4 linked regions of the Homo sapiens genome follow. The protein of the gene in region 2 purifies or fractionates together with the protein of the main gene of each other region. This does not show direct contact. Each region holds a gene or a part of one and is shown on either strand. Other genes may lie near its edges.

What was found. Proteins that work in one complex are often made in the same cells at the same time.
Region 1: the proteins of NRG1 (region 2) and INTS7 purify together in Homo sapiens (affinity purification with mass spectrometry; 3 studies listed by BioGRID and IntAct, with this or other methods). This does not show direct contact.
Region 3: the proteins of NRG1 (region 2) and PGAP1 purify together in Homo sapiens (affinity purification with mass spectrometry; 3 studies listed by BioGRID and IntAct, with this or other methods). This does not show direct contact.
Region 4: the proteins of NRG1 (region 2) and RHOBTB3 purify together in Homo sapiens (affinity purification with mass spectrometry; 3 studies listed by BioGRID and IntAct, with this or other methods). This does not show direct contact.

Annotation. Positions count from the first base shown.
Region 1 is NC_000001.11:212,004,558-212,008,057, forward strand, and holds part of INTS7 (integrator complex subunit 7), read right to left. Parts: intron 2,893-3,500; coding exon 2,693-2,892; intron 2,205-2,692; coding exon 2,082-2,204; intron 1-2,081. UniProt on the Homo sapiens protein: Component of the integrator complex, a multiprotein complex that terminates RNA polymerase II (Pol II) transcription in the promoter-proximal region of genes.
Region 2 is NC_000008.11:32,554,811-32,558,310, reverse strand, and holds part of NRG1 (pro-neuregulin-1, membrane-bound isoform isoform HRG-alpha proprotein), read right to left. Parts: intron 1-3,500. UniProt on the Homo sapiens protein: Direct ligand for ERBB3 and ERBB4 tyrosine kinase receptors. Concomitantly recruits ERBB1 and ERBB2 coreceptors, resulting in ligand-stimulated tyrosine phosphorylation and activation of the ERBB receptors.
Region 3 is NC_000002.12:196,909,708-196,913,207, forward strand, and holds part of PGAP1 (GPI inositol-deacylase), read right to left. Parts: intron 3,347-3,500; coding exon 3,175-3,346; intron 1-3,174.
Region 4 is NC_000005.10:95,786,836-95,790,335, reverse strand, and holds part of RHOBTB3 (rho-related BTB domain-containing protein 3), read right to left. Parts: intron 1,575-3,500; coding exon 1,478-1,574; intron 1-1,477. UniProt on the Homo sapiens protein: Rab9-regulated ATPase required for endosome to Golgi transport. Involved in transport vesicle docking at the Golgi complex, possibly by participating in release M6PRBP1/TIP47 from vesicles to permit their efficient docking and fusion at the Golgi.

The DNA.
Region 1 (3,500 bases), on a different chromosome or scaffold from region 2:
ATGCACTGGAAGACAATATTATAAAGTTACCAATTTCTTACAAACTAATCTTTATATTCAGTGTAATCCCAATCAAACTGTTAAATTTGACAAGCTGATTCTGAAATTTATATAGAATTGTCAAGGACTAACAAAGTATGAGTATTCCAAATATATAAAAAATAACTATGAATCAACAGAAAAATAGGCAAGAGACCTGAATAGCCATGTCATAAGAGAAAATCCAAATGGTCAATAAACATATTAAAAAGGTGTTCAATTTCTTTAATAATCAAGGAGCTACACATAAAAAGTACAACTTCTAAACTGGTAAAAAACGTAAGTCTGATAATTCTATGTGTTGGTACGGATGTGATTAATGGACGCCCTCATACACAGCAGGAATGTAAACTGGTTCATTGACTTTGGAAAACAGTTTGACATCATCTGTTAAAACTGAAGATACGCATTTTCTGTAAGTCAGAAATTTCATTCCCAGGTATACACTCTAAAGAAATTTGCGTGTGTGAACTGGGAGACAAACAGAAGAATGTTCTGCACTGTTTGCAATAGGCCCATGCGGAAATAACCCATCGAGAGCAAATAAACTGTGATACATTCATACAATGGGATAGTACATTACAATTAAAGGGGAAAGACATGGATGAGTCTCACCAGTGTAATGCTGAGCAAAAGAAACAAAAACAAAGCTAAACAGTATTCTTTAGGAAGACATGTGAAGAAGGTAAAAGAAGAGCAAAGAAATTATTATCATGAAAGTCAAAATGGTGGTTTGCTTTTGGAAGGTGTAAAGTTTCAACCAGGAAGGACCACGCAAGGGAAGGAGGCAGGGTTCTGTGATCCTGTAATGTTCTATTTCTAGCTGGATGGTAGTTGCATGGGTTTTCACTTAAAAGTATTTAAAATATTTATACATTTTACATACTTTTCTCACTTAAAGGTATTTAAACTATTTATATATTTTACATACTTTTCTGTATGTATGATCTATCTCACAATAAGAAAAAAATGAGAAGGAATAATACTGTGCTTCTCACTCATCTTTCTAAATAACTGGGTTTGGTTCTTTGTACAAATTCTCTAAAATGACTAAAGTGGCTGGGCACATTCTCTTCTTGGAAAGATAGCATTATTTAGTAGAAAAAGCAATAAGACTAGGGATCAGAGGACAGAAGCTCTCTTAATTAAATTCTTAATTTACTTCTCTTAAGATGCTCTCTTAAGCATATTAAGTCTCTCTGAACCCTAACTGCTTATCTATTAAATGCAGATTTAACAACTGCCCTTATCTTGGGATATCTGTGACTATCAAATCATAATATAGTAAATTAAAAGATGTTTAGAAAACAACAAACAAACAAACAGAAAAACAAACACAGCAGTTTAGTTTTAATAATCTGAAATTCAAAGATTTTTAATCCACTGGAGTCATGATGAAGCTGAGAGATAAAAACTACCGTTCCATTTTAAATAGCATTATTTGCAAAATGGTGTTATTTCTATCGGTAATGGGTAAACAAACAGGGTTCTATTTTGAGAAAAAAATAAACATAAAATATTAATTTAACCTAACAGATGGTAAGAGATGGTGTCAAAGATGCACATTAAAAGTCTAAAGAGTGAGATCTGCTCTTCTGTTTACAAAAGAAGACTTAGGAATGTCTTCAGCTCTCCAGGAAGAGAGAAATATATTTCCCAAGTTGCCCATCCAGCCCTACCTCCATTACAGATAACATTCAGCCCCTAAATTTTTCTCCCCAAATTGACTGAAAAATACAAGAATAAAAAAACCAAACCAATGTAATTGGGCTTCTCAATTAGCCTTAGTGCCACTATGGGAGAATGAACAAGCAACTGAGTGGCAAGTTTCACTGACTAAAACAAACATTGAAGTATAGAAGTTTTATGTATTTATTGTGCCACTTATAAAATAACTGCCACAAACATCAACAATGCTTTTAGAAGTTTTTCATATTCAACCACTTAGAAGATGACAAAGACAATATAAAAATGCAAAACATTTTACTATATTATAATGTTATATTATTTTTTCTATATAAAATGTTACAAGTTCTACATACCTGAATATTCTCCCTACTCCAAGTATGTGGTGTTTTATTAGCAAGTAATTTCAGATCTTGAATAGCAAGTCTCTTTACTGCCTTCCTGGGATCATTCTTCAAATACTGCAACAGAAGCTGAATCTATAAAGGAAATAAGTCACTCCATAAACAATACTGTAACTGAAATGATCATTAGAAATGCAGTGTAGTTTAGTGAAACTTATAAAGGGACAGGACTCACTTCAAATCAGAGCCCTGTCACTCACTAGCTATGTGCCCACATTTGGGCCTCTTTCTCCATGTTTGTAAAATACTACCATTTAACTTTAAAGTTTTAGCACAGGCCCTGGCATTTTACAGATACTCAATCCTTTCTTTTTTTTTTTTTATACGGCCAACTTCACACCCAGCCATGTACTCCATAACATCTCATTTTCCTCAAGGGCTCCCAACAATCAGTACTGTGAACAGAGAGAATAAAAAAGCAAGCAAAAGCAAATTAATCTGACCTTTATTAGAGAAAAGAACCTTAATGTCCTCAAGACTTGTGGGCCACTTTCTTATTTCTAATCATATATTTAATATGTAAGTTTACCAAAGATAGGCAGTTTAAAGAAAATTGAAATTACCTGCTTAGGTGTATCAACCAAAGATGACGCTGCAAGCAGAGTGAAAGTGTGCAAAGACACAATCACCATTTTGGTGGACGGATAGGATGTGACCAGCTGTTGTAAAAGCTGACGAGCACTGGAAGCCAAGATTGCATCATGGTGCATGTGCTGTAGAATGGGTATCAATTTTAGCTTCAAGTCTACTGGTGTCGCTAAACCTAGACACAAAAATAATTCTCAAGGTATTTGTGATCACCATCCTTAATAATATTCCAGATTTAAAAGCTGTGACTCATTTAGCAAAATTGCACTTGAAAAACACAGTATACTAATATATTTATAACATTAAAGATTATACTAGAACCAATTGATAAATTCAATATTTTTTCCTAAGTATTTATCTTGACATTAACTTTTCAATGATTATAAAACTACATGCTGATAATAAAAACTGCCTTTAAAAAGCACAGTAGAAAGCAAAGTCATATTTGCTGCCTATTTCCTCTCATTGTCATAGTAAAAAAATTATACATACACATATACATATATATACACAAACACACACACTTGATGGCTACAGTCTGATTATACTTATGATTTTAATTATTTCCTTCAACAACTAAATCATAATCAGGATGTGAATAAACTGTGTGTAGAATGGTTTCGAAGTCCTCTGAACTTTGTGTAGTAAATGCCTTTCTTTATTGCATACACGACTGGATCCATGAAGACTAACCCTAATCCACGTTTTCCTGTCAACAGTGGAGCGAAACCAACAAATCTTTTCTCTATGGCATGGCTTTGTGGTCATGGTGAACACAAATTT
Region 2 (3,500 bases):
AGTGAAAACCGAATGCATAATATTTATTCTGTAATCAGTAGCATATTGCAAGTAATCACATTTCCCCACGCCATGCACAGTCCAATGTAGAGGCTCTTTCAGTCAAGGCGGCCTTGTGTGGATTCAGTCTGAGAAGGCGATGACTCCGTAGAGGCCACAGGGACTATACTCTACGCTCTCCCTTAGCTTCTGTTGATTCCTGGAGAACGATAGCGGTCCTTGTCTTTTCTGCCTTCTTTTAAGTGGATCGCTATCCTTTTGGATGGGGCATAAATGATATGCACAACATTTAAAACTCCACTGTTCCTTTCTAAATATCAAAATATAATAAGTAACTATTTCTATTGACATTTCTCCTTCCTGTCAGGTTGAGGGCACTTGGGAACACACAATATCATCAACATGTTTCAAAAAAAGAAAAGAAAAACCCTCAAGACATAAGTCTCCCATTTCTATTCAATTTAATATATGGAAAATCATGTATTTCATTTTCCATTCAACTCAGTATTCAAATTATTGGTTTCCTCTTGACAAACCTACCCGCTCATTTCCATAATGCCTGTAAGTATTACTCTTTCCCAAAATGGATAATGCATGAGCAATCCCCCGGGAAGGTTCCAACTCTACAGCAAGGTGACCTCACTAAAAAAAATTATAATCATAATCTATTTTCTGTATTTCATCTAATCCTTCTGGGGACAATATACCAGCCTTCAATATTTTTCCCAGAAATAGATGACAATCAGTTTCAATATGACTGCTATTATAACTGTTTCTAAAGATCTACCATCTCATGGGCTTCAAGACAGACCCCTCTCTTTTGTTACTTATTTTTAAACAACTGAAACAACAGAATGGAAAAGGAATACTATAATTTTAAACAATAAAATGTTGTGCATAATCCCAATACTGTACTTCCATTTCACCCTGTTGGCAGAAAAGAGATAAAATACCAAAAGATATAAAAACAGATTTGATACGTACACACAAAAACAATGCCTACTTGCTGGGCGCAGTGGCTCATGCCTGTAATCCCAGCACTTTGGGAGGCCGAGGTGGGTTAATCACAAGGTCAGGAGATCGAGACCATCCTGGCTAACACAGTGAAACACCGTCTCTACTAAAAATACGAAAAAAATTAGCTGGGTGTGGTGGCAGGCGCCTGTAGTCTCAGCTACTTGGGAGGCTGAGGCAGGAGAATGGCATGAACCCAGTGGGGGGAGCTTGCAGTGAGCTGAGATCGCACCACTGCACTCCAGCCTGGGTGACAGAGCAAGACTTAGTCTCAAAAAAAACCAAAAACCAAAAAACAAAAACCAATGCCTACTTGATACACAAATGAAAAATTGTGTTAACTTACTATACGTAATAACACACGTTACTTGTTTTGACAAAAATATCACTGCAAATTGGAATTTTGACATCTCCTTGTAAAGGCTGGTTTTAGATTCCCTGTGGGATTGCTAAAGAGACTGTGCTATCCTTTAAAAATGCAATGTAAGTCTCTAAAATTGGGAGATTATATGCAACAAAGGGATGAGTTATAAACATATACAGTTTTAAAAACTGGCTATATCGAAATTTGAACTTTATTTATAAAATAGGCCATCTAATAATGAGATGCATTTTCACCTGATGATAAAATTCATACATTAAAACTACTAAAAAGCTTGCATTGATGTAGTACTGTGAAAGTGAACAAAAGGTTTTCTTTTCCTTTTTTCATATTACTCCATAACTAAAGCCAGGATTATTCAGCAATCTTCCATATTTCCTACTCATTGCTCTGTAATCTCTCTGTAGAAATAATGGTGGTTAAGATAAGGTGCAATAACAACTATCTGCTAATAGGTCAAATAAAAATGAGTCATATTTTATGGTGGAAACTTACTACTTTTCTCACCAAGGGAAAATGCTAGTTGCTCTGTCATTCTAATTTTATGCTAAATTCATTTAATATGGATATGATTTTAGCTGATTTATTGGTTGTAAAAAATGTTACTGCTTCAATTATCCCTAGCTCAGATTTCTTTTATGTATTACTTCAATCCTATTTAATTATCAAAAACGTACATAATTCTTTTTCAAAGTTGTCATTATTACTTAAAGAATATGTAAAGAATAAGTAAAGTCAAATTACTTTTTCAAAGTCCAAATATTAAACTGTATGACATGGACAATATTCAGCCAGGTATGACCTACAAAACTGACAATTTCATATGATTCAATCTAATAAAACATTCTGTGACTCTCATATCATTGAAAGTAAAACTCCACAGCTGCCCAGAGAAGGCAGCTCCCTGCCCATCAAAGCTGTGGAATGAAAGGTTCGGGGCACTGTGGCAGTCAAAGACTATTCCCATCAACGACAGATTTCTTGGAGCAAGAAACAATGGGAACAATATTACACTTTAAAAAGGGAAGGGGAGTAATATCCTGAGAGTAACTCATGTCAAAGATAACAAGTACAGGGTGGAATTAACATAAGCAGGTAAACCATAAATAACAAGGCCTGTGTGACCATATTAAAATATCAGCCCCGCCGGGCGCGGTGGCTCACGCCTGTAATCCCAGCACTTTGGGAGGCCAAGGCGGGCGGATCACGAGGTCAGGAGATGGAGACCATCCTGGCTAACACGGTGAAACCCCGTCTCTACTAGAAATACAAAAAATCAGCCGGGCGTGGTGGTGGGCGCCTGTAGTCCCAGCTACTCGGGAGGCTGAGGCAGGAGAATGGCGTGAACCCGGGAGGCGGAGCTTGCAGTGAGTCGAGATGGCACCACTGCACTCCAGCCTGGGTGACACAGTGAGACTCCGTCTCAAAAAAAGTACATAAATAAAATCAGCCCATGATCCACAAGAATTAGTCACTCAAACCTGTGTTCAAAAATGTGCACTCAATCAAAGTGGGGCTCCTAAACATTTGTTGCCCCTGGGTTGAGGAAACAGAGAGATAGGAAGAGATGAAAACAAATGTGTTAGTAAAGATCTGTTGTCCAACTTTGATGCTTTCACCTATAGTTTTCCAATGCCAGAGTGAAACTCTTAAATAGCACTAAATCTCTTTGTGGGTACCATGTGCACTTCAGTGGGAGGGAGCTGTTGTAAGGCGTGATTGGAAGGTATTTAAAGATGCTTGATTCTCTTGGGGGAAATTCCTAGAGGGAATTAATCTGACAGATGTCCCCTTGCAAGCTAACCACTGCATCAACATCATCAGAATAATGTTTTAAAATATTCTAATTTAGAATACTTAATGAATTAGGGCTATGTGGTCCAGCTGGAAAACAAACTCCAGTTGAGGCAGCTAACATGTATGGAATCGGGACTCTGTTCTTCCAGTAGATTGCCCAGAATACTGCAGTAACTTAAAAAAAAAAAGAGAGAGAGAGAGAAGAAAAAAGCAGTCTTTGGGGAATAGCAGTGTGATGCTCCTGGAGCACCCTCTGGAGGCCAGAAAAAGGTGACATGGGGCATAGGAAGAATGAAGAGAATTCTGA
Region 3 (3,500 bases), on a different chromosome or scaffold from region 2:
TCGTCTCAGCCCAAAATCTCCTTAAGCTGATAAGCAACTTCAGCAAAGTCTCAGGATACAAAATCAATGTACAAAAATCACAAGCATTCTTATACACCAACAACAGACAAACAGAGAGCCAAATCATGGGTGAACTCCCATTCACAATTGCTTCAAAGAGAATAAAATACCTAGGAATCCAAATTACAAGGGATGTGAAGGACCTCTTCAAGGAGAACTACAAACCACTGCTCAAGGAAATAAAAGAGGACACAAACAAATGGAAGAACATTCCATGCTCATGGGTAGGAAGAATCAATATCGTGAAAATGGCCATACTGCCCAAGGTAATTTACAGATTCAATGCCATCCCCATCAAGCTACCAATGACTTTCTTCACAGAATTGGAAAAAACTACTTTAAAGTTCATATGGAACCAAAAAAGAGCCCGCATTGCCAAGTCAATCCTAAGCCAAAAGAACAAAGCTGGAGGCATCACACTACCTGACTTCAAACTATACTACAAGGCTACAGTAACCAAAACAGCATGGTACTGGTACCAAAACAGAGATATAGATCAATGGAACAGAACAGAGCCCTCAGAAATAATGCCGCATATCTACAACTATCTGATCTTTGACAAACCTGACAAAAACAAGCAATGGGGAAAGGATTCCCTATTTAATAAATGGTGCTGGGAAAACTGGCTAGCCATATGTAGAAAGCTGAAACTGGATCCCTTCCTTACACCTTATACAAAAATCAATTCAAGATGGATTAAAGATTTAAACGTTAAACCTAAAACCATAAAAACCCTAGAAGAAAACCTAGGCATTACCATTCAGGACATAGGCGTGGGCAAGGACTTCATGTCCAAAACACCAAAAGCAATGGCAACAAAAGACAAAATTGACAAATGGGATCTAATTAAACTAAAGAGCTTCTGCACAGCAAAAGAAACTACCATCAGAGTGAACAGGCAACCTACAACATGGGAGAAAATTTTCGCAACCTACTCATCTGACAAAGGGCTAATATCCAGAATCTACAATGAACTCAAACAAATTTACAAGAAAAAAACAAACAACCCCATCAAAAAGTGGGCGAAGGACATGAACAGACACTTCTCAAAAGAAGACATTTATGCAGCCAAAAAACACATGAAGAAATGCTCATCATCACTGGCCATCAGAGAAATGCAAATCAAAACCACTATGAGATATCATCTCACACCAGTTAGAATGGCAATCATTAAAAAGTCAGGAAACAACAGGTGCTGGAGAGGATGCGGAGAAATAGGAACACTTTTACACTGTTGGTGGGACTGTAAACTAGTTCAACCATTGTGGAAGTCAGTGTGGCGATTCCTCAGGGATCTAGAACTAGAAATACCATTTGACCCAGCCATCCCATTACTGGGTATATACCCAAATGAGTATAAATCATGCTGCTATAAAGACACATGCACACGTATGTTTATTGAGGCACTATTCACAATAGCAAAGACTTGGAACCAACCCAAATGTCCAACAATGATAGACTGGATTAAGAAAATGTGGCACATATACACCATGGAATACTATGCAGCCATAAAAAATGATGAGTTCATATCCTTTGTAGGGACATGGATGAAATTGGAAACCATCATTCTCAGTAAACTATCGCAAGAACAAAAAACCAAACACCGCATATTCTCACTCATAGGTGGGAATTGAACAATGAGATCACATGGACACAGGAAGGGGAATATCACACTCTGGGGACTGTGGTGGGGTCGGGGGAGGGGGGAGGGATAGCATTGGGAGATATACCTAATGCTAGATGACACATTAGTGGGTGCAGCGCACCAGCATGGCACATGTATACATATGTAACTAACCTGCACAATGTGCACATGTACCCTAAAACTTAGAGTATAATAAAAAAAAAAAAAAAAAAAAAAAAAAAAAATTAAGATAATGCAAATTTTTATAGGTAAGAAGCTATATACATTTACTAACCAGAAAGAATTCTTTCTAAAGATTTTCATCTACTCATATAATATTCCTATAAGCAGTGAGGATAATCTCTGGCTTTTTTTAACAATAAGTTGAGATAACAGACATTTAATTCTTATTCTGTGACGTTATCACTATTTGATTAGACGATGTCAATCACAAACTCCTACTTTTCATTCAAAATTCCTGCAAGATTATAGTATTATCTACGGTTTTATTTCCTATGTTAATGTACTTCAATTAAGAGGCAGTACAGCATGCAAAGGTTAAGAGCACAAGCCCAGAAGCAATTTTGCCAGGGTCAAATACTGGTTTCACTACTTTCTTGCCACATGACTCTGGGCAAGAACGTTATCTTGGCCTTTTTCTATCCATAAACATGAGGATAATAATGGTGCCTACCTCATGGGACTGCAGTAAGGATTAAGTGTGGTAACACATCACATGAAGTCTTTAAAATCCATAACATACTAAGAGCTCAATAAATATTAGGAATTATATCTCATTATATAAAGTGTTAGCATACCTTTGTACTTAAAAACTAGACATTGCTACTATCTTACTTAAATATAAGCTTATTTTGGATACAGTCCTAAAACAGTTAACAAAGCATAGGAAGTTTAAACACATCTTAAGAGACAGGGTACCATCCTCAAAAATAACTAAACTGGCCAGGCATGGTGGCTTATGCCTGTAATCCCAGCACTTTGGGAGGCTGAGATAGGCAGATCACTTGAGGTCAGCAGTTCAAGACCAGCCTGGGCAATACGGCAAAAATCCCAGATACTTGGAAGGCTGAAGCACGAGAATCGCTTGAACCTGAGAGGTGGAGGTTGCAGTGAGCTGAGATTGCACCACTGCACTCCAGCCTGGGAGAAAGAGCAAGACCCTGTCTTTAAAAAAAAAAAAAAAAAAAAAAAAAAACTAAACGGAAGCCCTAGTGCCTAGAAATTATAAAACACATGTCAACCATGTTAAGATGCTATGGACAGACAAAACTTAACAGTAGTTTCAATTATAAGCCTAAGTTCAATAATATAAAGAGACAGACACTCAGAATTGGAGGTGCTGATTTGCAACTGAGTTGCTTCATACATGGATAAATCTGTAGCATACTCCTAGGGGAATAGCCACAGAGATTGATTTATTTAATCTTAAATAACAATGGGGAGGTTAATGTTCATGTAACAGTACTCACCTGTAATGAAACGATCTAATGGCATCACAGGAGCAACATGAGGTGTGGCTTGTGTAATAAGAAGATTTATCAGATCATGCTTAAAATTTTTCAGTGTAAGCAATGCTCTTGCAACAAGGCCACCCATAGAATGACCAATTATTGCCACACTTTTTGGAGCAAATTCTTGACCCTATTAAAATAAATCACCAGGTCATAATTGCGGCTTTGTATCATTTTTAAAATACTAAATATTTCTCTCTGCATATGACCAATTTTATAGGAAAAAGAAAATCAAACTATTTATATAACCTCCCATCATAAGGTACAGAAATACATTTTCATAT
Region 4 (3,500 bases), on a different chromosome or scaffold from region 2:
ATTTAACTTTTAGCAAGCTTCTTAAATAACTATAGAAGCAGCTACTTAAATAACTATAGAAGAATGTTCCTTCTGACAGCAAGCATACACAAGCCTTATCTTTATGAACTGACTGTTTTTTCCTTGCACAAAGTACATAGCTAATAAATAACTGTTGTTTTGTTTTGATGTGATTATGCTTCTCTACTGTACTAATAGTTGACTTATATAAGGAGGCTCCTAATAGACATATAATGTTTGTTGACTGGCTGAATACATCTCCCAAAAACGGATTGTGTGTTCCTGGGTTTTCTTTAACTGCACAAGTAGCTGAATAAAAACAAGAGATTTTTACTCTTTTTTCTTTTAGAGACAGAAGTCTCGTTATGTTGCTCAGGCTGGACTCAAACTCCTGGGTTCAAGTGATCCTTCAGCCTCAGCCTCCCAAGTTGGCTGGGATTACACCGAGGTGGAATCACCATCTTGACCATATGATTTTTATATCTTTTACCAGCAGAGTCTTTTTTACGAAGTAAAATTTTAGGTAGAACTCAAGATATGAAACAGATAAAGTGGAACTACTATGACTGAAGGAGGGAGGGAAGAGTCCAAGAACTGTAAATTTTAGCCTTCTCTTTCCCTTTCCCTTACTCCCTCTCTCTCTCCTTCTCCTCACCCACTCCCTACTTTCTGTCCCCCACCCTAGAAGACACTTCAGTTATCTCCACGGAGATTTATTTGTCCAGATTGTGAAACTCCTTGATCAGGTAATCTTTCACTTCCTTTTCTTTTTAGCTCAAATTTTCCTTGAGTCTATGCTAGATAATAACATGAGCAAACCACTGCATCTAAACTGTCTATTCTGACAACTATTATATTTTCATTTTTTTCTTTTTATGCAGTACTCAGTAGTTCACACTTTGGTTTTAATTTTTATAATTTACCTTAGAAAGCATATTACATACACTCCCAGTAAGTTTCACAACATTTTTTATATATGAAAAACTGTTATTCCAAAGTAATATAAGGGACTCCCATATAGGTATACTCAGTAAATACAGATATCCAGTACAATAAAGCTAAATATAATATAGTTAACAAGAGTTAAATTCCTTTATAAAAAATTTTTAAATCTGTACTGTTTAAACTTTGCTGCTGACTTAGGTAGTTAGAACTAAGATATCACTTTTCACAACCAAATGTCACCTGAGGACACATTTTGTCACCTTATCTATTTCAGGGAAAGAAAATGCATTTAAAAACGGATGGAGCTATAAAATAATCATTAGAAAACTTCTTGTGTAACACAGGTTAAGGCACTTATGTAACACAGGTGACTATAAATTGTTTCCTCAATTACCACACTGCATAATTTACAAGAAATTTATTACATTGACTATTCTTATTTTGCTAAAAGTACTACTTCTACAACTTATGTCTCAAATCTAAGAACAAAGAACATAAAGTTTTCTTTTCAAAACAGAAATTAGCAATCTACCTGAAAGATCCTGAAATTCAGGCTTTTGACTGAAGATGAGGTAGTTAGTAGCAATGAAATGAAGTAGCCAGGTTGAAAGGCAATCAGAGTGGTGAAACTGCAAGAAAAATGAAAAGTGAAATAATATTGCACATAATGGCCACTGGTATGATAAGATCAAGAGAACGGCCTGGGAGCAATCACGGAGAGCCCATATTCATGTTTAATGTGCCTTTACCTGATGCAGCTTTCAGTATACTGTGACAGCAGACAGGATGAGGGAGCACTATTAGCAAATAACGTTAAAAGTACATTCTCGGAAGAAGCCAGGCCAACAGCGAATAACAATCTACGGCTGCCGGAGTGGCCAAACGTCTTTAAGCAATGCATGGCTGCATCTGAGGTTCTTGAAGATTTAATTTGAGCTTTTAATCTGAAGCCACGGACTTCAATAACTGCACCTGTATCTGTGTAGTAGATGATGGTGAGCAATGTTAAAACAAGTTCACCTGAGGAGCAAGCCAAAAAATATTTTGAGGAGGAAACACCATCGGCCGAAGGCATGGGTTTCAATGTGTAAATGTTTCTAAGAGAAAGCTGTGGCTAAATATTTGCTTTTAATGAGATGTACAGTAAACTGAGCAGGATTTCCAGCTCCATTCTCCTCATTCTGAGTTCCAATAGCTGCTAATGGAGGGAAAACTCCAAGCAAGCAGGCCACTGACATCATCACCTTGGTGCCCATCCAGTGACACTCACTGATCCATCCAACCACCAATGCAGATGACAGTAACTTGCTGGCAGGCAACTTTGGCACATGAGTATAGAACTCTTTTTTTTATTATTATTATTGTGGTACAATATGTGTAACATAAAATTTACCATTTTAACAATCCTTAAGTGTACAGTTAAATGTCACTAATAAGTGCATACACATGGTGGGGCAACCCAACACCACTATCCATTTCCAGGCCTTTTCTATCACCCCAAACTGAAACTCTGTACCATTAAACAATCTGTTTTCTCCCTATCCCTATCAGATCCTAGCACCCACTGTTTTACTTTCTGTCTCTATGAATTTCACTATTCTAGGTACCTCATATAAGTGAAATTCTAAAATATTTGTCCTTTTATGTTTGGCTCATTTAGGGTAATATTTTCCAAGTTTCATCCATGTTGTAGCAGATATCAAAATTTCACTCCTTCTTAAGGCTGAATAATATCCCATTGTACATATATACCACATTTTGTTTATCTCTTCACCTGTCAATGGACATTTGTGTTGTTTCCACCTTTTGGCTAAGTATAGCTCTTCTAAGGAGATGCAAAAATATTAAATAAGCAACAAGTAATGCTAAATTGAAGAAAGATTAGTAATCTCTAAACCTTAATAAAAAAACTCAAGGATATGCTTTTTTTTTTTTTTAAAGCTGTATAGTGTGAGAGTATTTAAACACAAATTCACAGGTCCCTCTTATATTCATTATATAAAATCAATTTTTGAACTGGAAATAAATTTATAGTTTATCTAATCCCACATAACATTTTAACAGTTTTTTTCCTCCCCTTATCTTTTAGCAGATGAATGTGTGCAATCTCAAGGGAAAAGAATAAGAACCTTCAGCTTTTTAGAGAAGCCACCACTACTGTTACGTGATTAACCCAGAGCAGATAACAAAACACCAGGAGGTTAGGACATTGCCTTAAGGGCTGTGACTGAGAAGGAAAAGGGAGGTCACAGAAATAAACAGCTGGCTACAAAGCATGCTTAAAAATGAAGAATTTTATTTTTGACCAAGATTTAAGATATTATCCAAAATATCTTAAATACAGTAGGATGACACATCTGAATAAGCTTTCCGCTTCCAGGAATGAAAGAACTGAGGAATGAGGAATTGGTAGCACATGTGGGGGTTTGGGAAGTAGATTTCAACAGAGCAGTTCTAGCTAATGTACAGACCTGGCCCAGATTCATAGTCTAGGGACTCTGTAACAGGAATGGAACATGTCTCACTGTAAAAACTAGGTTTTAGAAGGATATGTG